3 linked regions of the Homo sapiens genome follow. The protein of the gene in region 1 purifies or fractionates together with the protein of each later gene. This does not show direct contact. Each region holds a gene or a part of one and is shown on either strand. Other genes may lie near its edges. The genes, in order: KDM5A, ZNF131 and BRD8.

The links.
Region 2: the proteins of KDM5A (region 1) and ZNF131 purify together in Homo sapiens (affinity purification with western blotting; one study listed by BioGRID). This does not show direct contact.
Region 3: the proteins of KDM5A (region 1) and BRD8 purify together in Homo sapiens (affinity purification with mass spectrometry, with the first as the bait; one large-scale study listed by BioGRID). This does not show direct contact.

What each region holds. Positions count from the first base shown.
Region 1 is NC_000012.12:284,759-288,410, reverse strand, and holds part of KDM5A (lysine-specific demethylase 5A), read left to right. Parts: intron 1-2,748; coding exon 2,749-2,955; 3' UTR 2,956-3,652. UniProt on the Homo sapiens protein: Histone demethylase that specifically demethylates 'Lys-4' of histone H3, thereby playing a central role in histone code. Does not demethylate histone H3 'Lys-9', H3 'Lys-27', H3 'Lys-36', H3 'Lys-79' or H4 'Lys-20'.
Region 2 is NC_000005.10:43,141,414-43,145,065, reverse strand, and holds part of ZNF131 (zinc finger protein 131), read right to left. Parts: intron 1-3,652. UniProt on the Homo sapiens protein: Plays a role during development and organogenesis as well as in the function of the adult central nervous system. May be involved in transcriptional regulation as a repressor of ESR1/ER-alpha signaling.
Region 3 is NC_000005.10:138,165,012-138,168,663, forward strand, and holds part of BRD8 (bromodomain-containing protein 8), read right to left. Parts: coding exon of another isoform or gene 3,459-3,652; intron 3,068-3,458; coding exon 2,923-3,067; intron 1,717-2,922; coding exon 1,507-1,716; intron 1,098-1,506; coding exon 817-1,097; intron 156-816; coding exon 1-155. UniProt on the Homo sapiens protein: May act as a coactivator during transcriptional activation by hormone-activated nuclear receptors (NR). Isoform 2 stimulates transcriptional activation by AR/DHTR, ESR1/NR3A1, RXRA/NR2B1 and THRB/ERBA2.

The sequences.
Region 1 (3,652 bases):
TGTAATGTAAAATCTCCTATCATTTAATATTTGAACAGTTCATAGCTGTGAAGTTTAGTAATTATTTTTGTGATTCACTAAATACATCTCCTAGAAATAATGAAAGGGGGGGAAATGACAATTTATACAGTTATCCAAATTCTGTGTTCTTGAGTTTTCAGGATACTACATAGTCTGTTGCCCCTGTGTCAAAATCATCTGTGGATTCAGTTGACATCCCAAACTTTAGTTTGCTTTATGTTGCTGTGGGCCTTTCACACAAAAGTAGAACTCAGAGTTGATTGTTAGTAGATGAACATGATAAAAAAGATATTGGTAAAGAGAAGGACTATTTTTTGCTTGTTCTATTATCAGGCTAAATTGTTATATAACCTGTAGTCTAGGTTAGAATTTGTGTACCAGTATCTCAAGGAAGGTTATATACTCTTTTGAAATGGTAGAAGATCTGGGCTTAGGAAGGGACCTTTAGTCAAAATCACAAAAGGGAAAGTATTGTCTTATTTGTAAGAGAATTTTGGGAAATTGTAAGCCAGTGAGTATAGTGCAAACACTAGATTTAAAAAGACATGGGACACTTTTCTTTGTAGCAAATACTGATACATTAATAACATTCTTATCCAATGGATTAGCATGAATGGGGACTAGACTGGATTAAGAAAGAGGGTTGGAGGTGTAAGGGTGAAGGTAACTGTTGGTTCACAGGTACCATTATAAAAAGCATGGTATCTCAAACCTGGGCAGCACAGAGAACCACAGTTTATCTATCCAGTTCCCTTTACCAGTCCCAAACAGCCAAAACACTCACTCTGAGTGCACGTACTCTACAGCTAGCATTTTGTGTTTTTACTGCTTGCAGTACTTTAATTTTTACATTTTGCACAGATGCCATTATTTCCCCCTTTTTTTTTTTTTTGGTCTCTGATTAGTTTGCTACAATAGGAACATTTTGGTGAGTTTTTTTATTGCACAGACTTCAGAAGCTAAACAATCAATTACAGAACAAAAATCAGTTTAGGAAGGTATTGTTAAGTTGCTCTGAATTTACAGGAAGTGATATCACAGAGGGCCAGCAATGATCGGATTTAGAATATATGAGAATCACTTGGGAGCTGATTAAAAATGTAAGCTTCTGGCTTGTACTCCCCAGATATTCTGAGTTCATAGGGTGATGGGTCCCAGCTACATTTTAAACAAACACAATAGATGATTCTGATGCCAGTGGTCTACACACTTTGAAAAGCAGTGCTGCCGACAGTTGTATCAAGGTGCAGAACGTTTTGTGTAGTGTAGGGTAATGAGTAGAGCCATGAGACCATGACTGGAAAGTGCCTCCAGTATCCTGGGCAGTGAATTAGGTGTTTTGCCATACATTATTTCATTGGATCCTCTCGGTAATCTTGTAATTAATGTCATCTCCATTTTCAGATGAGGAAATTGAGTCACTCAGGTTAAATGACTTGCCTGAAATGATACACACTGGAACTCAGAGCTTCTGAGTTGAGTAATCTTGATGTTAACACAATATTGTCTCTTAAGATCTAGAACTTTAGCATAGGAACAAAACAAGTAGAATATCATTTTGACAAATTATTTTTCCCACCCCTTATTACAAGCCTAAAACTACTGACGTGACTACTGTGGTTTTGACAGTTTTTTATAGGACATGGAAACTAATTTTGAAAACTACTCAGTTGCTATGAATGAAACTCATTTACCTAGCCAAAACCTCCTTCATCTGTTCTTTCTCTTAAGTTGTATAGAGGTACTTCTTGGATCCCTTTCTATTCCTTACTTTGATATCTGGTAAAGCTCATGGTTTTAAGTGGCTTCTTAACGTTACCAATGAAATGACCAACCTTGGTATTGAGGTGAGGAAGAGTAGCTCTTTTCATCTTAAATGTTCTTGTCTGCCATGACATTAGCTGTAAAAACTACCACAATCAGCCTTCAAATATAAAAGCCAAAAGTCACTTTATTGTTAACTCTTAAGTCCAAGGCTTAAAGTCACCAAACTACAATCCCTTCCTAGCCTCCTGTAATCACAGTATTGTCAGAAGGGTCAAAGTTTGACACCTGCCACTGACCTATCAGTTTTTCAGATTTTAATTTTAAACCCCAGAGTGATCTATTGACCTGTGTCTTTGACTGTTATAATTGGTTAATTTGTAAGATTTGACATCTGATATTTGCTAACTTTTTATAGGGAGTTGTATTTGTAACGGAAGAAGAGAAGAATAAAAAATATTAGTTTTAAAAGTGGCCTATGTGACTGCTTTTCTAAAAAGGTATTTAATGCTCTTAGTACTTTGGCTTATCTCTTTGAAATAAAGCTAATACACAGGATTGCCTTCACATTGTTGTACTCTTCCTTTCTTGATTGATAATTGCATTGTCTTAGAGCCTAGAAATTGTTAATATTAGCTAAAACTACTTGGCTGCTCTATTAGAAGTTCCCTTTTTGTCAAATTTTTCTCAAACATGTTTCTGCCTCACAAGGAGCCCCAGGTATTCATGAGGTAATGGAGTACCTAAGAGGCCTAATTTTGTGGACACACTATGGTGAAATATAATTTTGGGGTATTAACTTCTCAGCTTCTTTCTTTAAAAAATAACCCCATAAGAAGTCATTGCCTATCTAGACATCCCAGTTGTTTGCTATTGTTTAAGCCAAGAAAGCTCTTTGGTTTGCTTTTATTCTAGGCTTAATGTTTATGTAACCTAAACATTCCCCAATCTTGTTTCCTACAGGTAGACTGGGTACAATGTGATGGTGGCTGTGATGAGTGGTTTCATCAAGTTTGTGTGGGTGTATCTCCAGAAATGGCTGAAAATGAAGATTACATCTGTATAAACTGTGCAAAGAAGCAGGGGCCAGTTAGCCCAGGTCCAGCACCACCTCCTTCCTTCATAATGAGCTACAAACTACCAATGGAGGATCTTAAAGAGACCAGTTAGCAGATGCTTGGTTAGTTTGGGACATGGGGGGACATGGACCACATTGAGACCTTAGTCATCAAGTAGAGTGGTTTATATCCACTTGGAATGTTGCTTCCAAAGATGAATGGCCTTCAGAGAAAGTCCCCTTAGTGCTGGCTTCCTCTTTGCATGGACTCTGTGGGTTACATTCTCTATCAACATATCTATGCAGAGGGTGTCTTCTTTGGTACAACAGCCAATATTTCATGTCTCCTTTGAGTGTGGTTTACTGCATTAAGGCCAGATGCTTAATTGAGCTCTAGGGTGGCTGGTTAGTATTAATACATTGGTGTGCTAACAGGGCATATAGGATGTGGCTTTTGTCCAGCTGATAGTAGTTAGAGGCTTACAACTTAGGAGCAGCACCAACTGAAGGTGCTAATTGCTTGGATCTCCTTCATTGGGATAGTTGGAGAGGGATTGGAGTACCACTTTCCTTCCACTGTTACCTGGTACTTAATGCCCTAAAGATACAACTAGGAGTAACAGGGCCAAAGTTATTTCTGTTAGACGTCAAGGAATGGTATCACAGTCTATTGACCTCAGCGATTTGTGCTTGTTTGTGCTAGAAGAACATCCCAAATAGGAGAACCTCTCACAAGCTGGGGCAGGTCACCTTATCTTTGTAAGATGAGGATATCATCTAGATCAGAAATCTGACTAGATTGGATTCTGA
Region 2 (3,652 bases), on another chromosome or scaffold:
TGCCTCAGAGAGGTTGGAGACTATTAGAAAAATGTGGGAACACTAATATGATTATTGTTGTAATGGAAAATGTAAAACATAAAAATACAGAATAATAGAAGTGCCTAAGTCAATCTGCTTGGCTCAGTAAGGAAAAGCTTCAGAGAACAGGTTGTTGGCTCTCACCTGAGACCAGAAAGATGAGTAAAATTTTGCCATGAACAAGCAGACAGATGGCATTCCAAGAAATGAAAAGAACATATGCATAATCATGTTATTATGTGGCAGATATTGTTTTAAGAGCTTTACGTGTACCACTTCCTTAAAACATAAATCTAAGACAGGATAAAATATTTGGAGATTTGATCTGACCCACAGCTCACTTTTCAAATAGCCTTAAACACAAGACATTTGTCAAAAAACAATCAATGGCAACTGTTTATCATTGCAACTACTGTGGTGGCATTACAAGTTTGGGCTATCAAGAAGCTGAACAAAAACTGAAAGGAAAAACTGGAGAATGAGATGTTCATAGGGGGCTTTAAAAAGCTCTGACAGACTGGACGTGATGGCTCATGCCTGTCATCCCAGTACTTTGGGAGGTCAAGGCAGGTGGATCACCTGAGGTCAGGAGTTCAAGACCAGCTTGGCCAACATGGTGAAACTCCGACTCTACCAAAAGTAAAAAAAATTAGTTGGGCGTGGTGGTGAGCGCCTATAATCCCAGCTACTCAGGAGGCTGAGGCAGGAGAATCACTTGAACCTGGCAGGCGGAGGTTGCGGTGAGCCAGGATCGTGCCAACACAAAGCTCTGTCTCCAAAAAAAAAAAAAAAAAAAAAAAAAAAAAAGAAAGAAAGAAAAAAAGGCCAGGCGCCGTGGCTCACGCCTGTAATCCCAGCACTTTGGGAGGCCGAGACAAGTGGATCACGAGGTCAGGAGATCGAGACCATCCTGGCTAACACAGTGAAATCTCGTCCCTACTAAAAATACAAAATATTAGCTGGGCGTGGTGGCGAGTGCCTGTAGTCCCAGCTACTCGGGAGGCTGAGGCAGGAGAATAGCGTGAACCTGGGAGGTGGAGCTTGCAGTGAGCCAAGATCGCACCACTGCATTCCAGTCTTGGGGACAGAGCGAGACTCCGTCTCAAGGAAAAAAAAAAAAAAAAAAAAAAAAAAAAAAAAAAAAAAGCTCTGACAATATTCCAGAGAACCTAGAGGGCCATACACATGCACAGAGCTGTATACATGTCCAGGAAAGACCTTAGCAACTCTCATCTCTATCTGACCTTGAGGTTCTGTTAACACAGGAAGTAAAGGCTAAAGCAGTTGTAAACTGCTTGATGGGACACTGATGGTGTACCCTATAAAGAGCTCCCCAACAAAAATGTGGAGACTTACTGGTTTAAGACTTTTAAGAAAATTTCTGTCCAATGATCAGTTTGTTCAGTAAACTACCTATGCAGACTTCAGTGGCCATACACACAAAATGTAGACTGTACAGAATTACAGGAAAGGGATTACAGAAGTCCAGGAAAGTCACTAAACCAGTAACAACAATAAGAAACGATGTCTGGCTCATCTAAACTAGTTCCAGTGGGATAGGAAATTAAGAAACTTCAAATACAGCGTGTAGTTGAAGATGATAAACTTGCAACAGTGGAGAAGCAGATCACTGCTTTTGAGGACTATGTGCAGTCCATGGATGTGGCTGCTTTCAACAAGATCTAAAATCCATCCTGGATCACTGCACTTAAATAAAAGCTTGAGGCCGGGCGCAGTGACTCGTGCTTGTAATCCCAGCACTTTGGGAGGCAGAGGCGGGCAGATCACAAGGTAAAGAGATGAGACCATCCTGGCCAACATGGTGAAAACCCCATCTCTACTAAAAATACAAAAATTAGCTGGGCGTGGTGGCGTGTGCCTGTAGTCCCAGCTACTCGGGAGATTGAGGCAAAGGAATCGCTTGAACCCGGGAAGCAGAGGTTGCAGTGAGCCGAGATCACGCCACTGCACTCCATCCTGGTAACAGTGAGACTCTGTCTTCAAAAAAAAAAAAAAAAGCTTGAAAGATTAAAAAAAGAAACCATGTCTGGCCAAGTATGGTGGCTTATGCCTGCAATCCCGGCACTTTGAGAGGCTGAGGTGGCCACGTCTCTTGAGCCCAGGAGTTCGAGACTAGTAGCCTGGGCAACATGGTGAAATCCTGTCTCTACAAAGAAATACAAAAATTAGCCAGGCATGGTGGCAAGCATCTGTGGTCCCAGCTACTTGGGAGGCTAAGGTGGGAGGATCTCTTGAGGCCGGGAAGTTGAAGCTGCAGTGAGCTGAGATTGTGCCACTGCACTCCAGCCTGGGTGACAAAGCAAGACCCTGTCTCAAAAAACCAAACCAAACCCAAACAAATCATGTCTGAGAGACAGAATGGGGGTGGGGAGGTAGGGGGTGGGATCTAAATAAAACTTATTTAAAAATATCCAATTTTTGGCCGGGTGCCATGGCTCACGCCTATAATCCCAGCACTTTGGGAGGTCGAGGCAGGTGGATCACGAGGTCAGGAGGTCAAGACCAGCCTGGCCAAGACGGTGAAACACCCTCTCTATTAAAAATACAAAAAAATTAGCCGGGTGTGGTGGCGGAAGCCTGTAATCACAGCTACTCGGGAGGCTGAGGCAGAGAATTGCTTGAACCCGGGGGAGGCGGTGGTTGCAGTGAGCCGAGATCTCACCAGTGTACTCTCCAGTCTGGGCGATGGAGTCTTGCTCTGTTGCCCAGGCTGGAGTGCAGTGGCATGATCTCAGCTCACTGCAACCACCGCCTCCCGGGTTCAAGCAATTCTCTGCCTCAGCCTCCCGAGTAGCTGGGATTACAGGCGCCCGCCACAACGCCTGGCTAATTTTTTTTGTATTTTTAGTAGAGATGGGGTTTCACCGTCTTGGCCAGGCTGGTCTTGAACTCCTGACCTAGTGATCCACCCGCCTCGGCCTTCCAAAGTGCTGGGATTACAGGTGTGAGCCACCGTGCCCAGGCCAAAAATCTAATTTTTAACCAAAAAAAATGATGAGACATACAAAGAAACAGTAAAATAAGGCTCATGCATGGGGGAAAAAGTCAACAGAAACCATCTCTGTAGAAGCTTAAACACTGCATTATTATAAACAGCCAACATATAATACTACTGTCTTCCTCTTTTCAAAGGGAACTCTTCAGAACATATTACATGCCTATCTGGTTCAAGAAACAATTCAACATGTTACTGTGTTTATACTGAAAAGCAATGATTGTTTTAGGTACTATTGGAATTCCAGTTTTTTTTTTTTTTGAGACAGGGTCTCATTCTCACCCAGGCTGGAGTGCAGTGGTGCAATCTCGGCTCACTGCAACCTCTGAGTCTCCCATGCTCAAGCGATCGTACCACCTCAGTCTCCTGAGTACCTGGGACTACAGTTGCACGCCACAGTGCCAGCTAATTTTTGTATTTTTCATAGAGTTGGCGTTTCACCATGGTGCCCAGGCTGGTCTCAAACTCCTGAGGTCCAAGTAATCCACCCACCTTGGCCTCCCAAAGTGCTGGGATTACAAGTATCAGCCACTGCGCCAGGCTTGGGATCCCAGTCTTGAATCTTCTCCAAAGTGACATACCACTCACTATCATGAGCAGCAAAAGGGCCACAGA
Region 3 (3,652 bases), on another chromosome or scaffold:
ATTTCTGGTGCAGGGAGAGGTACTGGCTTGTCCCGCTCCTGCTGGATAGGATGCTCCCAGGGGCCAGGCAGGGACTGAGGATCATCATTTTCTTCACAAAATGACAGTGCTGCTTCCACTGCTGCCACATCCAGCACTTCAGGATGATCATCTACCTGTCCCACAAAACACAAGACTATTGAGGTCACAGAAAGAAGCCCAAGTCCTTCAATTTTTGTTAGCACCAAATGTGATGGCTTGAATCTGCAGCTTTTCGCTCCATTTTTTCCATGTAGTGGAGGCAAACAATGAAGAGGCACCTGTCCTGTGCAAACCAGTAACATGGGTAGACCTGAGGAGATGACTAGTATGTTAGCACCAAAGGGCTACAAAGATGGAGATGGGCAGAAGTAGGAGAGTTGTTTAAGTAATTCTTACTGTAAGAAGCAAAGCAGCCGAGTATGGTGGCTCATGCCTGTAATCTCAGCACTTTGGGAGGCCGAGGTGGGTGGATCACTTGAGGCCAGGAGTTTGAGACCAGCCTGGCCAACATGGTAAAACTCATCTCTACTAAAAATACAAAAAATTAGTGAGGCGTGGTGGCATGTGCCTGTAGTCCCAGCTACTCAGGAGGCTGAGGCACAAGAATTACTTGAGGCTGGGAGGCAGAGGTAACAGTAAGCCAAGATCGTGCCACTGCACTTCAGCCTGGATGAAAGAGCAAGACTCTGTCTCCAAAAAAAAAAAAAAAAAAGCAGCAGCAGCACCAAAGTGAGGCTGAAAAGAGAAGCCTATGTAGGACCCATGAGATTCTCTGGGGCTTCGCTGAATAGTTACCTTGTCCTCAATGATGGCAATGATGTCTCCAACAGTCTCAAAATCCAGCTCTTCACCTGTGTAAGACACAGCAATATCCATCTTCTCAGCCAGATCTAATTCTTCCTTCCCATCTATGCTGGGAGCCTTTGATCCAACAGGAGCCTCTGCTACCCCTGATCGAAAACACTCTTCTTTGATAGAATTGATGATCATGGATATTTCACTGCTGTCCATGGAAACAGTCACAGTATGTGGATCCCCCACAGCCTCCATGGGAACACAGTTGTCGGGTTGACTCACTGAGTAACAGAAAGAGAAAAGCATCTCAGAAGCTTATTGGGTACAAAGCGACCACCTTGAGATCACATAAGCGCTACAGACAGATGTCAAATATCCAAACACTTAAGGTCAGAAAGAGTCATCAACATGTGCCTATGTTTTCTTCTCCCCAGTTTTATCTAGAAAGGTGAGAACATATTTTCAAGCCTGCTCATATCTGTATACTTAGCCTCTTCCTGCAATACATAAATGCCCACCCACCTCTTCTCACATCTATTTCTAAGGATATTTATTTCTAAGGATAAAGATGGCACATGTCTATGTAGAACAGAGAAGAAGCATCTGAATCGGAGCTGATGCTCTTGGTCATTTTTCTCTAACTAAAGCTCAAAATGAAATTTTAGATCTAGTGGCTGCTCAGGGACGCACCTGGAGCTACACTTTCAGTAGTGGAGACAGCCGGAGCAGAGGATGGTGCTGGCAGCGCAGGCATCATGACAATGGTAGCTTGGGACACAGACTCTACAGGGGGTGGCACAAGTTTAACTGGAGGCTCACTGGCAACAGTAGTGAAGGAAGCAAGAGGTGTGGTGAACTGTGTAGGACCAGCTTCTAAAAGCCGGGAAAGAGTGGGAGCACCTAACATATAAAGAGGTACACAAAATGAAGTAAGAAGAAAGCACATAAATAAGAAGCAATAGCTACTTGAAGACTCAACTAAGAAAATTCTTATGGTCTCAAAGGATGAGAGCAACTCCTGCATTGAATAAGTTCATCATCTATATCCTTACTCTAACCTTACTTAAGATCTTCCTCCAAGTTAGGAATGAACCAAAGCACTAGAACACACAACATATATAAAAAATGGGTGGTAAGGCTAGGTGCAGTGGCTCACGCCTGTAATGCTAGCACTTTGGGAGGCCGAGGCAGGTGGGTCACTTGAGGTCAAGAGTTTGAGACCAGCCTGGGCAACATAGCGAAACCCTGCCTCTACTAAAAATACAAAAAAAAAAAAAAAAAAAAAAAAAAAATTAGCTAGGCGTGGTGGTGGGTGCTGTAATCCCAGCTATTCAGGAGGCTGAGGCAGGAGAACTGCTTGAACGCAGGAGGTGGAGATTGCAGTGAGCCAAGATTGTGCCACCACACTCCAGCTTGGGCGACAGAGCAAGGCTCTGTCTCAAAAAAAACAACAACAACAACAACAAAGGGTGGTAATTTTTCCTCAGAGGAAAATTAATCACCAAGAAACGAAAAACTGGTATGAATAAATCTGTCGCTTCTGCTGAAGTTCAGCATATTGTAAACCACCCAAGTTCAACACCATTCAAATACCAATAAGGTTTGTATGGTATTCTATGGAGCTTTTTTTATTTCCCTGCTTTATACTTTCTACCTCATTAAATTCTCATCACATCCTTGTGAAGTATATATGTTACAATAAAAAAGGAAACTGAGGCTCAAAAGCTAAGTTACCTATCCAAGGTCACAAAACCAATGTGTGGCAGGCCTGAGATTCAAGCCCAATTCTCTGGTTCCAAATCTTATTCCACTATTCTATAATCTTAGGTATCTCTAGCACCTTGATTTTGCAAGCCCTAAGAAAGCAGTTCAATATTACTCTCAATATCCATGCTGTGGTCAATCAGGGCTATCACTATCTTGAAGATAGATGGCTTTATAATATGGAGACTACATTGTTTACCAGGTAAAGTAGCTCCAAAAAAAAGTTAGAAAAAGTTGGGCTTTAAATCTAGCACTGACAACTGCTTAGTAACAGTGAAACTGAGGTCAGTCAATGTCAAGTTCAACACCTTTGAGGTTGATAAAGGAAAAGTGGTAACTTACCTGATGCAGCAGGGGAGGCTGCAACAGTATTGGGTGTTTGCTGTATCTCCCCACCATGTATCATGGGAAGGACCCCGCCTACCTCCAGGAGGACACCTGTACTGTTCAGGTGGCCAGAAGCCACAGCCATTTCACTCTCATTGACCTACCAGGGAAGAATAGAGGTGAAGGCTACACTCAAGCTTTCCTTCACTACCATTTCCCAACAAAGCTCCAGCAGTTGATCAAACTTCATGAAAACTAATAGCTAATATCCACAGAGAATAATTTAAGACCCAAGGGAAACTCTAAACTATAATGTTCAAAACTTATTTGACAAGAGTTCTCTGGAGAAGAGAACCAAAATAATTGTGATTCAGATACCTCAGGACCCATGGGTACTATCAACTTACTGTATTTTTAAAAAATTAACATTTAATTAGGAGATCTTTTCCTCTTTTGAACTTTTATTCCCCATGTCACATTTTAGGTCCCAGGCACTCCCTTCCAAGTACTAAATCACCACAGCTCTCAAACACCCACAGAAGTCTCCATACCAGTCTGGGGCTAGTAGGCAGGAGGCTGCCCTTCTTCAAGAGCTCTGACAGCAGAGGGGAGGGGGGTGGAGTTGCTTTCTGTCCAAGCATCTTTTTCTGGGGTGAATCATCTGTTACTGGGGTCATGGGGGCTTCTAAGGGTGCAGAGCCTGGAGGAAGGGTGTCAGGAATCCCAGGAAACGAGGTGACTGGGG